2 separate regions of the Homo sapiens genome follow, and region 1 is linked to region 2. The links come from fine-mapping of genetic effects on gene expression. A gene starts in region 2. The other region holds a variant in brackets. All regions are shown on one strand. Distances are from middle to middle. Region 1 has its middle 28 kb from the start of TEX13C. Region 2 holds the start of TENM1 (teneurin transmembrane protein 1).

Evidence for each region. PIP is the estimated chance that this variant, and not a neighbour inherited with it, causes the effect.
Region 1: its variant is fine-mapped to the expression of TENM1 in neutrophils (CEDAR, PIP 0.95).

Annotation. Positions count from the first base shown.
Region 1 is chrX:125,289,449-125,294,829 of GRCh38, reverse strand. No RefSeq gene overlaps it. Among named protein-coding and RNA genes, the nearest start is that of TEX13C, 28 kb to the left of the region's middle. The variant A/G (reference allele first, on the strand shown) is at 3,033.
Region 2 is chrX:125,201,561-125,206,941 of GRCh38, reverse strand. TENM1 (teneurin transmembrane protein 1) reads left to right here and starts at 2,630. Exons shown (of 35, transcript NM_001163278.2): 1 at 2,630-3,138. It overlaps LOC124905211 (a long non-coding RNA gene), which reads right to left and starts at 2,482. Exons shown (of 2, transcript XR_007068314.1): 1 at 2,243-2,482; 2 at 1-1,900.

The DNA of each region.
Region 1 (5,381 bases), 88 kb before region 2:
ACTTTTAGTAGTGTCTTGGAAGGGGAAGGGAAAGGGCAGATCTTCATACAGTTTTGGGATTTGTCTTAAGGAAGGTCTTTCAAAGAAGGGATCTGCCTGGAATCGGAAAAAAAAGTTGTAACACAGATTTTTAGATTGGTGAATGCAGCAAAGCAAGAATTTTGAAGTGTCCTGATGAGTAATCATTTGATAAGCAAGCAGTTTGCACATTGAGTGATCTGTCATCCTGAGAATGGTGATATTTACCCTGATGAGTAACTTCTTGCCTTGAGCAGGGCAGCTAACTGATCAGCTTATTGTTCAGATAAAAACCTTGTTGCAACTTTATTTTCCTAGGCAATAATGTCCTGAAATAGTAAAGTAATGTTAACCTTGACAGCCTTAGTTCTTGAACTCATTAAGCAGTATGTTTGCAGGAAGTTTGTTCTCACTTCTAGTCCAATAACTTGCAAATAATATCTATAAGATACAGTCTCACTTACTCTAGATGACTGCTATGCCAGGTCCTATTTTCAGTTTCATTTTTATTAATGGTACTAATATACTTCAGGAATCCTAGGTTTGAAGCCTAGGCATTATATTTAACTGCTCTTTCAAAATGACTCCCAGTATTCAACCAGTCATCAAGTTTTGTCTGTTTATAATCTCTTTGATAAAATCCTCCAAAAAGTGATGAGACTAGCATAAGGAGGAAGTAATGAGCAGCCAGGGCTACTTCCTCAGATAGACTGAAGGAAAAGGTAACTTCCTGAATGAAATAATGGTTATGTATGTTAAAGCAGTGTCACAATTACTCAATTACTTGTTAGCCTGAGTCTAGGGTTACACAACTTCCAGAACTGTGATGTAAAAAGAAAAGGTTAAATTGCAAAACAAATGATAGGAGAGAGAAATTTGGAAACCACTAGCAAAACTGAGTGCAGTGCTGTGAAATGTCTTCATCAAGATCTACAACCAGTTAGAAGTTAGAGGTCTGGTATGGTTTGAATGTGTTCACCAAACTTCATATGTTGGAAACTTAATCCCCAAAGTAACAATGGTGGGAGGTAGGAACTAATAAGAGGTGATTAGGTCATAAGGGTTCCACCCTCATAAATGGATGAATGTTATTATCATAGAAATGAGTTCTTTTATCTCTAGATGGGGCTTATAACAAAAGCGAGTTTAGCTCCCTCTTGCTGTTTTGCTCTCATGCTCTCTTGCCCTTCCACCTTCCACCATGGGATGATGCAGCAGGAAGGCCCTCACCAAATGTTGGTGCCATGCTCTTGGACTCCCCAGCTTCCAGAACCGTGAGTCAAATACACTTTTATCATTTACAAATTACATGGCTGTGTGGAGTTAGCTCATGCCTGTAATTTGAATACTTTGGGAGGCTGAGACGTGAAGATGGCTTGATGTCAGGAGTCCAAGACTAGCCTGGACAACATTGAGAGACCATGTCTCTATAAAAAGTTTTTAAAAATATTTTCATTGATTAGAAAAATACCTAATTTGAGGTATTCTGTTACAGCAACACAAAATAGACTAAGACGGGGTCCCTATAAAGTCAATTTCAGTATATAATCAAGGTTGACTAATAAGAAAAGAGTAAGTATTGGCTGATTGAAATAATGAACCCTTACCATCTTTGTGAAGCATTCAGGAATAAAAGCAAAGTATTGTTGCTCTGTTCTAACTTTCTCTAGAGGATAGAAACCATACGACCATTAGCTGACTATTCTTCCTCAAGAACATAAATTCCTTCCTTCCCACTGACCACCAACATTCTGATCATGGATAGTTTGATATTTGGGGAATTGTGGATTCTGGTTCCCAGTTGGCAATGAATTCTTCACCACAACAAACAGGCTTGAGCCTGTTTTCGTGATTCTGTGAATGTCAGGTCTTTCTGATAAAAATTAGTATTCACCAGTAACTAAAAAACAGATAGAGGCTATCTGTCCTTAACCCTAAAAACCTGGCTATGAGGAGAAAACAATCCTCAGACCAAATTCCAACAAAGGTACTCACATTTCTTCACAACCTGTTTATAGATAAAAGAGGCCCCTCTTTCTATCCTTAAGTCCACCTTGCATAAAAAGTTTACTCTAAAACAAATGCAATTGCATTCTTTCACCTAAATGGCAGAATGTGGAAGCTTGTCGTCCTATCAAGGGGTAAGATTTTCAGTGAAAAGGAGATGCAAGACCAATAAGTTTCAGTCCTGGAATGTACCTATGACACAAGACTTCCGATTTCCAACACCTTGCAGATTTCCAACACCTTATTCATACCAATGAGGTTGGTCCTCTTGCACTATTCACAGACAATCACATATCTAAAATACTGTTATTTTTTCCAATCAAAAAATATTTTTAACATTCCTGTGCAAATTGGCCAACCCTAAGTTGATGTATTCATTTAAGATACCTCACCTGCTAATTAGCCCCAAGTGTTGCTTCAGATAAAGACATTTCATATGCTAATTAGTTACCCCTGGGATTTTAATTAGAATTAACTTTTTAATGTTATTCATCACATTGTTTATACAGCCATGATGTATTTTAAATTCCACTCAGACAATATAACTCAGTAAATGCTGCAGGCCCATATATGTATAAACATCATGAAAGCCCACTCCATACTCCATAGCCTGGCTGGCAGAACATAGAAGAACTACATTTCAGACAAGTGGGATGAGCCCAGCCTGTTAGCTCTGCCTCTTAATGTATAATTGCACGTTCTAAAATTTCAAATATGTAGCATTATCTTCTTCTTCTCTGAATTCTCAGAGCACTTTTGGATTTATTATAAGATCCATAAGGAAAGGATCCAGTTTGTTTTGATCACTGCTCTGTTCGTGGCTTACAGAATCGTTTCTGATGAATGAATGTATCAATGAATAAACACATGAATGTGTAAGCTCAGTGATCCCAGACTATGACTGAATCTCTCTGAGCCTCTGAAGTTTCCTTATACATAAAAAAGGAATAGTAATAATACTTACTTTATATTACTAATGTCATATTCTTAACTCAAATGCACTTTAC[A/G]TGGTGCCACTACATTAATTTTCTTGAAACACTATTTTATACAACCTTATCACTGCACTTACCATATTGTTGTATAATTATCTCTTTCTGTGTCTGATTTTCCCACTGGACTATGAATTTGTTGAAGGCTGACACATGATATTTTATATTGTGTCCCCAGATCTAGCACGGTGAAAAGCACATATTAGGTCTCAATGAATGCTTGTTGAATGAATAAATCTGCTTGAGTCATTGCAATGGTTGAAATGAATATAACCATAATTTATATCAAGTATCTGAGTACCAAATTTAATTTTATACTTATTTTCAAAGTTTGCCCACTGTAAATATTTCTACTTTATTATTAAATTGTACCATGCTAAAAAGTTAGGTTTTCAAAGGAAATTAATTCCTCAGAGTAAGTTAACTGAGCCAGTTGATTTGTGGCTATGTGTACAAAGGCAAATGAAATAGAAAGTTGAGTAATTGCTCTGTCAATTTAGTCAATATTGACAGCCACTCTGGAGCACACAGTTTACTTTTTACTTAAATAGTACAGATAATTGTCTCAAATCTAAAAAGAAAGAATGACCCTGCATTTGTTCCCCATATGACATAAAACTGGTTACTGTGAGATGGAAAATTAAACCATATAAAAAGGTACTAGTATGAGGGTACTAATTCCTTAGGCATCAGAAGTACTTACTTATAAAGTTCTTTTCCCTTTAAGATAGCTACATGGTATGACCCTTAGGGAAAACGCCTCTGAAGACTCTATAGTTTTCAAGGAAAGGCACCAAAAAATTGAAATACATTTCCACCCTAAACACATTACTGACAATTCCACATCAACAAACAAGCTTAATCCTTCTTTAGACATATTTGTCTTGCTAGTTAAAAAAAAATTACTAGAACCATGACATTCCCAGTTATTTTGGAATAACTCTAAAATAAGCAGAGACCTTTAAATTCCAAATACTGAATTTTTAAATATGAGCAAAAGCACTTGAAAATAAACATTTATATTTTCATTTATAATTCTTCCAAATTCTAATTATATTTTCTGCATTCTTATCTGCATATGATTTTTACTTAAAACCTAGATGATGGGTTGATAGGGTGCAGCAAATCACCATGCATATGTATACCTATGTAACAAACCGGCACATTCCGCACATGTATCCCAGTACTTAAAGTTAAAAAAAAAAAAAAATCTGAAATTATTAAAAGATGTATATTTTTGCTTATTTTAAATTCATTTTTATTAATTGATAGTATCACCATTCATTAAAATTATATAAATTGATTTAAATATTAAAGCTAAGCCTATGTAAATTAAATGCCATTTGTTAGTAAAAATTGAATTTTGCTAAGAGTTTCAGGTTGATTTAGTTGCAATTGAGCCCTAAATTTAGTGCTCATCTTCTTGGACTCAAACATAAATTGAAAACATTATGGGATTTTATAGTTCTTATTGTCTAATAATAGAAACCAAAAATATTTGTCTACAGAGACAAATGTTACCAGCATTTAATTATTGTATGAATGCTTTGAGGAGCATGGCATAGACTTTGAGAAATATGACAGGCATCGACCCTCATTTTGGTTTTGTCTTGCTCCGTTTTGTACTGCTATAACATAATTCCACATCCTGAGTAATTTATAAACATTATAAGTTTATACCAGGCATGGTGACTCATGCCTGTAAATTCCAGCACTTTAGAAGGCCAAGGCAAGGGGATCACTTAAAACCAGGAGTTTGAGAGACCAGCCTGAGAAGCAAAGCAAGACCCCATCTCTACAAAAAAATAACAAATAAAATAAATTATCCAGGCACGGTGGTGTGTGCCCATAGTCTCAGTTACTCAGGAGGATGAGATGGAAGGATTGTTTGAGCCCAGGAATTCAAAGCTGCAGTGAGCTATGATCATGCCACTGCACTCCAGCCTGGGCAACAGTGAGGCTGTCTTTAAAAAAAGATAATGGAAAGAAGTTTATTTGGCTCATGGTTCCGGAGACTAGGAAGTCCAAGAGTATGACACTGACATCTGGTGAAGGCCTTCATCCTTCATCATCTCATGGCAGAAGGTGGGAGGGTAAGAGTGAAAGAGTAAGAGAGGGCCAACCTCATTTTCATAACTGCCCACTCACAATAACAAACCCACTCCCTCATGACCTAATTACCTCTTGAATGTCCTACCTCCTAAAACTACTGCACTGGGGATTGAGTTTCCAACACATCAACATTGGGAGACACAGTCAGACCATAGCATTTTACCTCTGGCCCCTAAAGTGCATATCTTTCTCATATGAAAACGCATTAGCTCCACCCCAATAGCCCCAGAGCCTTTACTCATTCCAGCATCAACT
Region 2 (5,381 bases):
AGGGTTTGTCCATGTCCCATTTGGCCAGAATTCCCTTTTTGTTATGGGGAGTTCTTTTCTTAATCGCTGGTTACGGAAACACCCAGAGTATTTCCAGTCATTGGAGAAGTGACTGGCCAGATGTTTCTTTTTTTTCTCCTTCCAGAACTCTTTGGTAAGGATTGAGGAGGTATCCTGAAAGTCTTCCTTCCACAGTTCAGGGTTTGGGCAGTTCATAATGTGGAATCTTTATTTAGGATACTTAAATCTATATATGTTTATACAAATAACTTGTTTTTGTTTTGTAGGAGGGTAGTGGGTTTTAGGAAGGTTTCGTTTACATATTTGTGGCAAGACACAGGTTTTATACCCATCCTTTCACTACTGCTTTCTCAACAGCCCAACAGAGAGCCGGTGATAGAAGCAGTTGCTATGCCCCTACAGAGCCTGGTTGTCATCTTTTGTTTCTTTGTTGGCAGGGCGGTGGGGCGGGACGGGAGTGGGAGGGTGTTGAGCCGCAGGGATCCAAATGATTCCTGCCTGAAGCTGAAGACCTTGTTGGGAAGGGACGATGGGAATAAACGTGCTCTTGATTCCCTGATTCTTCCCCCTAGAGTGTTCAGCTCTTTGTATTTCCTCCCCTTGGTGGTGTGATGGTCTTACAATGCTCCCTCTTTGCAAATACCTATATCAAAAGCTGGGAAAATGGGAACACACGGTTCAGAGAACTCCCCCTGGCGTCACTCTGTACTACCTCTCTTTCTGAAACTGAATCTGGTCCCCCTGCTCAGGAGCACAGAGACCAGCCCGGAAGCCGACCTTGGGCAGCTGCCGCCACCCAGGGAAGGGAACAGTTGGAAGCTTTGGTGTTCGCCCACCGCGCCAAGAGGAACTCTTCCCGGTAACTAGCACCAGCCACGACTCCAAGCCTGCCTTATTGTAACCTCTAGCGGGTTCCCAACTCGGCAATAGCTTCTCGCTCTCCTGTCCCTGTTCTTGCGGAGGAAAATTTAAAACGTGCGTGCACATATACGCATTCACACACGCCCTTCTTTCTTTACTTAAAAAAAAAAAAATCAGTAAACGTCCTTCGCCCAAAGAATGTTCGACTCTTCACGCTCTCTTTTCTTTACCTAGAGGTCAGCAGTCCCTTGGGAGCACACGCGGTGCTCCCTAGCTGCTCTGCGCGCCCCCTACCTGCCTACGGCTGGGGTGGCACCGCGGGGCAGGAGGCCTGGGAATCCGCTAGACTCCTATTTCTCCAGTTTGTGCAGCTCCCCTGGCTCGGCACTTGGTATCTCCCACGGTCTTGCTCTCTGTGGGAAGCCGGAAAGAAGACTGCTGTGGGCGTCGCCGCCACCCCTCCCGGAACCAGAGCCTGCTCTAGCGTGCATCCAAGCCTCCTACTTCAGACTCACATCTGGCCCAGTCGGACAGATGTTAGCCGCTGGAGAGTGCCTCCATGCGAAGCGCCCCAAGTCCCGAGCATGCCCAGTCGGACTACTAAGGCTTCTGACGCGAGTTTCTGGGCGTGCAGATTCCGCTTCTCCGCTTTTTCGAGGAAGCTGAGGAGGGTTGGGAGGGAGGGAGGGATCCAGGGCTTGGGGCAGCGCGCTGGGTTCGCCCGAGTACGTGCCCTGGTGCCAGGCTGGGTGAGGGGCGGAGCCGTTTAGGGAGCCCAGGAACCTGGGCGGCCAGGCAGGGCAGGATCCCTTAGCGCTCCCCTCTTCCCCCAACCACCTTCAGGTGGACGTCGTTACTGCTGATCTGATGCGCCGCCAGTAGGCTGCATGTGGCCGGCCGGCCTTGGCGCTCTGGGGTCACACTGTCAGCAGGACGCAGTCGGCGGTGCACTCTCACCGACAGACGCACGAGAGCTTGTGGGTCGCTTATGCACCGCATTCACGGGCTTTTGGCTTTTCTGGAAGGCGGGGGAGAGGAGAATAAGAAAAGGAAACCAAACAATTTCTCTCCCCCCGCCCTTTTTTTTTTTTTTTTGCCAAAGTTATACTGGCAAAAGACTTCGCATTCTAAGTCAGTCCTGAGGCTTTGAACATAGAAGCAGTGATTGTGCTCCTGTGTGTGCGCTCGTGTGCGCGCGCGTGTGTGTGCACGCGATGTTTGTGTATGTCATGACTAGGTAACACTGTCCCAGGCTGATCCTGGGGTTGACAAATACTCATCCGAACCCCCCACCCCACCCCTCACCCTCAGGAGAAAGTAATTAAAAAAAAAAAAAAAAAAAAAACATCGAGTGAGTCACCTGGCCAGGCATCTATCCACTGTAGTAGGAAATCTAAATTTTGTTGATCCATATTTCCTTCCTCTGCTTCCATATCCAGCTTTCTCCTTCCCCTCTCCACCCTATAACACCCTGATCTTTCTCATTGCGACTTCCCTTCCTCTGCCCGATACTTGCTCCTTAAGCCCTTCTCCTCTTTCTCCTCCTCCTCCTCTCCCTCTCCTCCTCCCCCCACCTCCCTCCACCTCCCATCTCAGCTGCGGCTAAAACCTGGAGTCTTGGGGAAAAGGAGAAAAAAAAAAAAACCTCGGCTGTGAAGCTGTCAAACCGGGCATGCTCAGTAGACAGGGCAGGTTTTTTGGTCTCGAGTAGCGGAGAAACATTTTTTGCACCACCGCGACCAGCCTTAGAGCGCGGCGGCGGCGGCCACGGCAACATCAGCCCAGCCATCAGCCGAGCAGACGCCCAGCACCCGGGAGCGCGGCGAGCTTCGGCTCAGCCCGGAGTTCACCTCCGAGTGCCCCGGGGGCTGAGCTCACCCCTTCTGCTCTCTCACACACGAACACTCTCTTTCACTCACACACACACACGTATTCACACTCTCTCGCACACACATAGGACCCTGGGCGCAAGCACCCTTCTGGCAGCGGTCGTCCGCTGGTGCAATAGTAGCTAGGTTCGGTTCCTGCCTCCGGCGGCCGCCGGTTTAGAGCACCGCTGCCAGCAGCCGGAGGAGAGCAATGCGGGGGCCCGAGCGGCAGCTCGAACAGTAATGTGGATTTACAGTCGTTTCCCGCAGGAGTCGGCCGAGACGCCCTAAGTCCCGGGCACTGGCAGCGCCCGGCGGAGCCGAGCACCTGGCGAGGGGGCGGGGGAACAGCACCTGGGGACGCCGCCGAAACTTGCGCTTGGAATAGGTAGGTGCGTTTCTCCTGGCTCCCACCCCATTCCTTCTCGCTCCCGCCCGCCACCCCCAACCTTCTACCCCAAGGACTACAGGCGAACTTCGCCCCGAGGCTGCAGGCGGCGGATGGCGGCTCCTGGCTGTTAGCGGCCGGTTGAGTCCGCTCTGGGACTCCTGCCCGAGGTGGCAGAGCCTCCGCATCCTTCTTCTCCCGGTCTCCGCCGGCCATGGGGCTCTGGACCATCTGGGGCAGAAGGGAGGTCGGCCTTGTTCGCAGTTCAAGCTTCCAGCGGGCCCTGGGGACGCTGCCCTTCGAGGGCTCGCTGGGCTTCCCAGGCGGCACTTTTACCAACCAACTCCTTCAGTTCTGAGAGGGAGCCTCCTCGCCTCGGCTCTCGCGCAGAGCCCAGTCACTCTAACAAGTGGACCTGGGTGCTTGGGGTGAGGATGGGAGGCTCGGTCTAAAAAGAAAGAAAGGGGCGCTTCTCTGGCATCCCTCCCACCCTGGAGCGTTCGCCTGGGGCTCTGCCACTGGGGTCCAGGTCCTGCTGTCTCCGCAGAGAATATGCCCAAGGGCTAGGACGCACTTTAGTACCTGTTTGCTTCTGAATTTCTATTTGAGCCTCACTCAGGGAGCCCGGGTTCCCGGGGGAACTGCAGGACCTCCTAACCTACGCCGCCGTCGAGGGCCCCACCCGATGCGTCCTCCCTATACCTTTGTCAATCTTTGTCAAAAGAGATAGTCATTACAACCCAGGCGGTGCTCCAGGAGCCGTCGGTGTTGACTTTAACCATGCGCTCCAATGTGCGGGTTTGTGTGTTTCCGCATTTCATCCAGAGACTTGGTCCCCGAGATTCAGCAACGGCCAGCATATCTGCGAGCGCCAAGCACCCGCTAGGCAGGCTTGGGGAAATGTAACCTCACTTTCTTCCACTCCATAACAGGAGGATTGCCAATTTAGTTTCAGGATGCTTTGCCTAGAGGCGGAGAAGGGGAGATTGTTAGCGCTACTTGGTGAGTGGATGTGTTTGCAGTCAGGAGTGTATTTAAACATTTCAGTGAACCCGATGCAGTCAGTTGTTTACAATTGCGGAGACAGAGGATCTCACTCCACTAGTAGATGTTTCCACGTCTGTGTCGCCACTGGGAGAGTAGGGGCGGGGGCGGGGGCTGGTTTGCAGCTCGTACTCGCCGTCGGCAGCTTCGGGTTGAGCAGATCTGCATCACTGCTACTGGCGATATGCTAATAGGGGTAGAAAAGCTCTACATCTCCAATATGAAGCAATTGGTCAGTAAACGTCCTGAACTTAACCGTTGTTTTCCTGGGATACCAACCTGGAGGTGTTTTTGAGGTGGCCCAAAGAAATACAAAGAGAAGTTCTCAGTGCTACAGAAAGGAAATTAGTAGCCATTTGGTTTTAAAGACCAAAAGGAAACGAAACATCCCAGTGCACTCTAATAGGTACTGTTAGATTAGCGTTTAATTGATCGCGTTTGTGACGAGTAAGTGTCGCAGACAGCTTCCTTGAATTTTAGACTCTTGTTCTATGATTATAATTAACAAGCCAGGTAACAATGTACTGTGAGAATCAATTGCTACTCTTAACGTGTTTGAGGAGAACATGGCAAATGTCTGCTCTATTATATTTTTTGGCTGAAATAGCCCAGTTCATCTTCCTAGTCCGAAGTCTTCTGATCTGGAGCAGTAGATACTCCAGTGTTACCAAGAAAGGGAAGAGTCTAAGAGGGAAAGGCTTAAAAAACAAAATTAATGAAAAGGCGATCCACACCTTTAACTTCTGCTCCATGATTACCCAGCATCTGCTTGCTTGCTCACCCCCGCTCCTTGCTCTTCATATCTGCAACGTGGGGAAAAATGAATTTTCATAAGGCATAGTAAGACCCTCAAAGTACATAACTGGAGAAACAGAATCCCAATTTTGCCATTTTAGTTCAAGTTCATAACACTATTTTGTGATGCATTAAATAATTTACTATGGCAAAGTTGGGGTTTTTAAGAGTAATTAAAAGCTTTCAGGTATGACAAAATAATGTTGAAAACTTTTCATGATTAAAGAAAGTCGAAATATGCATTTAAAAAGGGATCAGGTAATTCCTAAAATAAATCCATGCTCTAAATATTATTTAAAAGTTTTCAGGTTGTTCCCCAGAATGTTTCTGAAAAACAGGTGTTTCTATAAAACAACTCTATGAAGAAATGTTAACATTTTCATAATAAAACTAGTAGAGTCCAG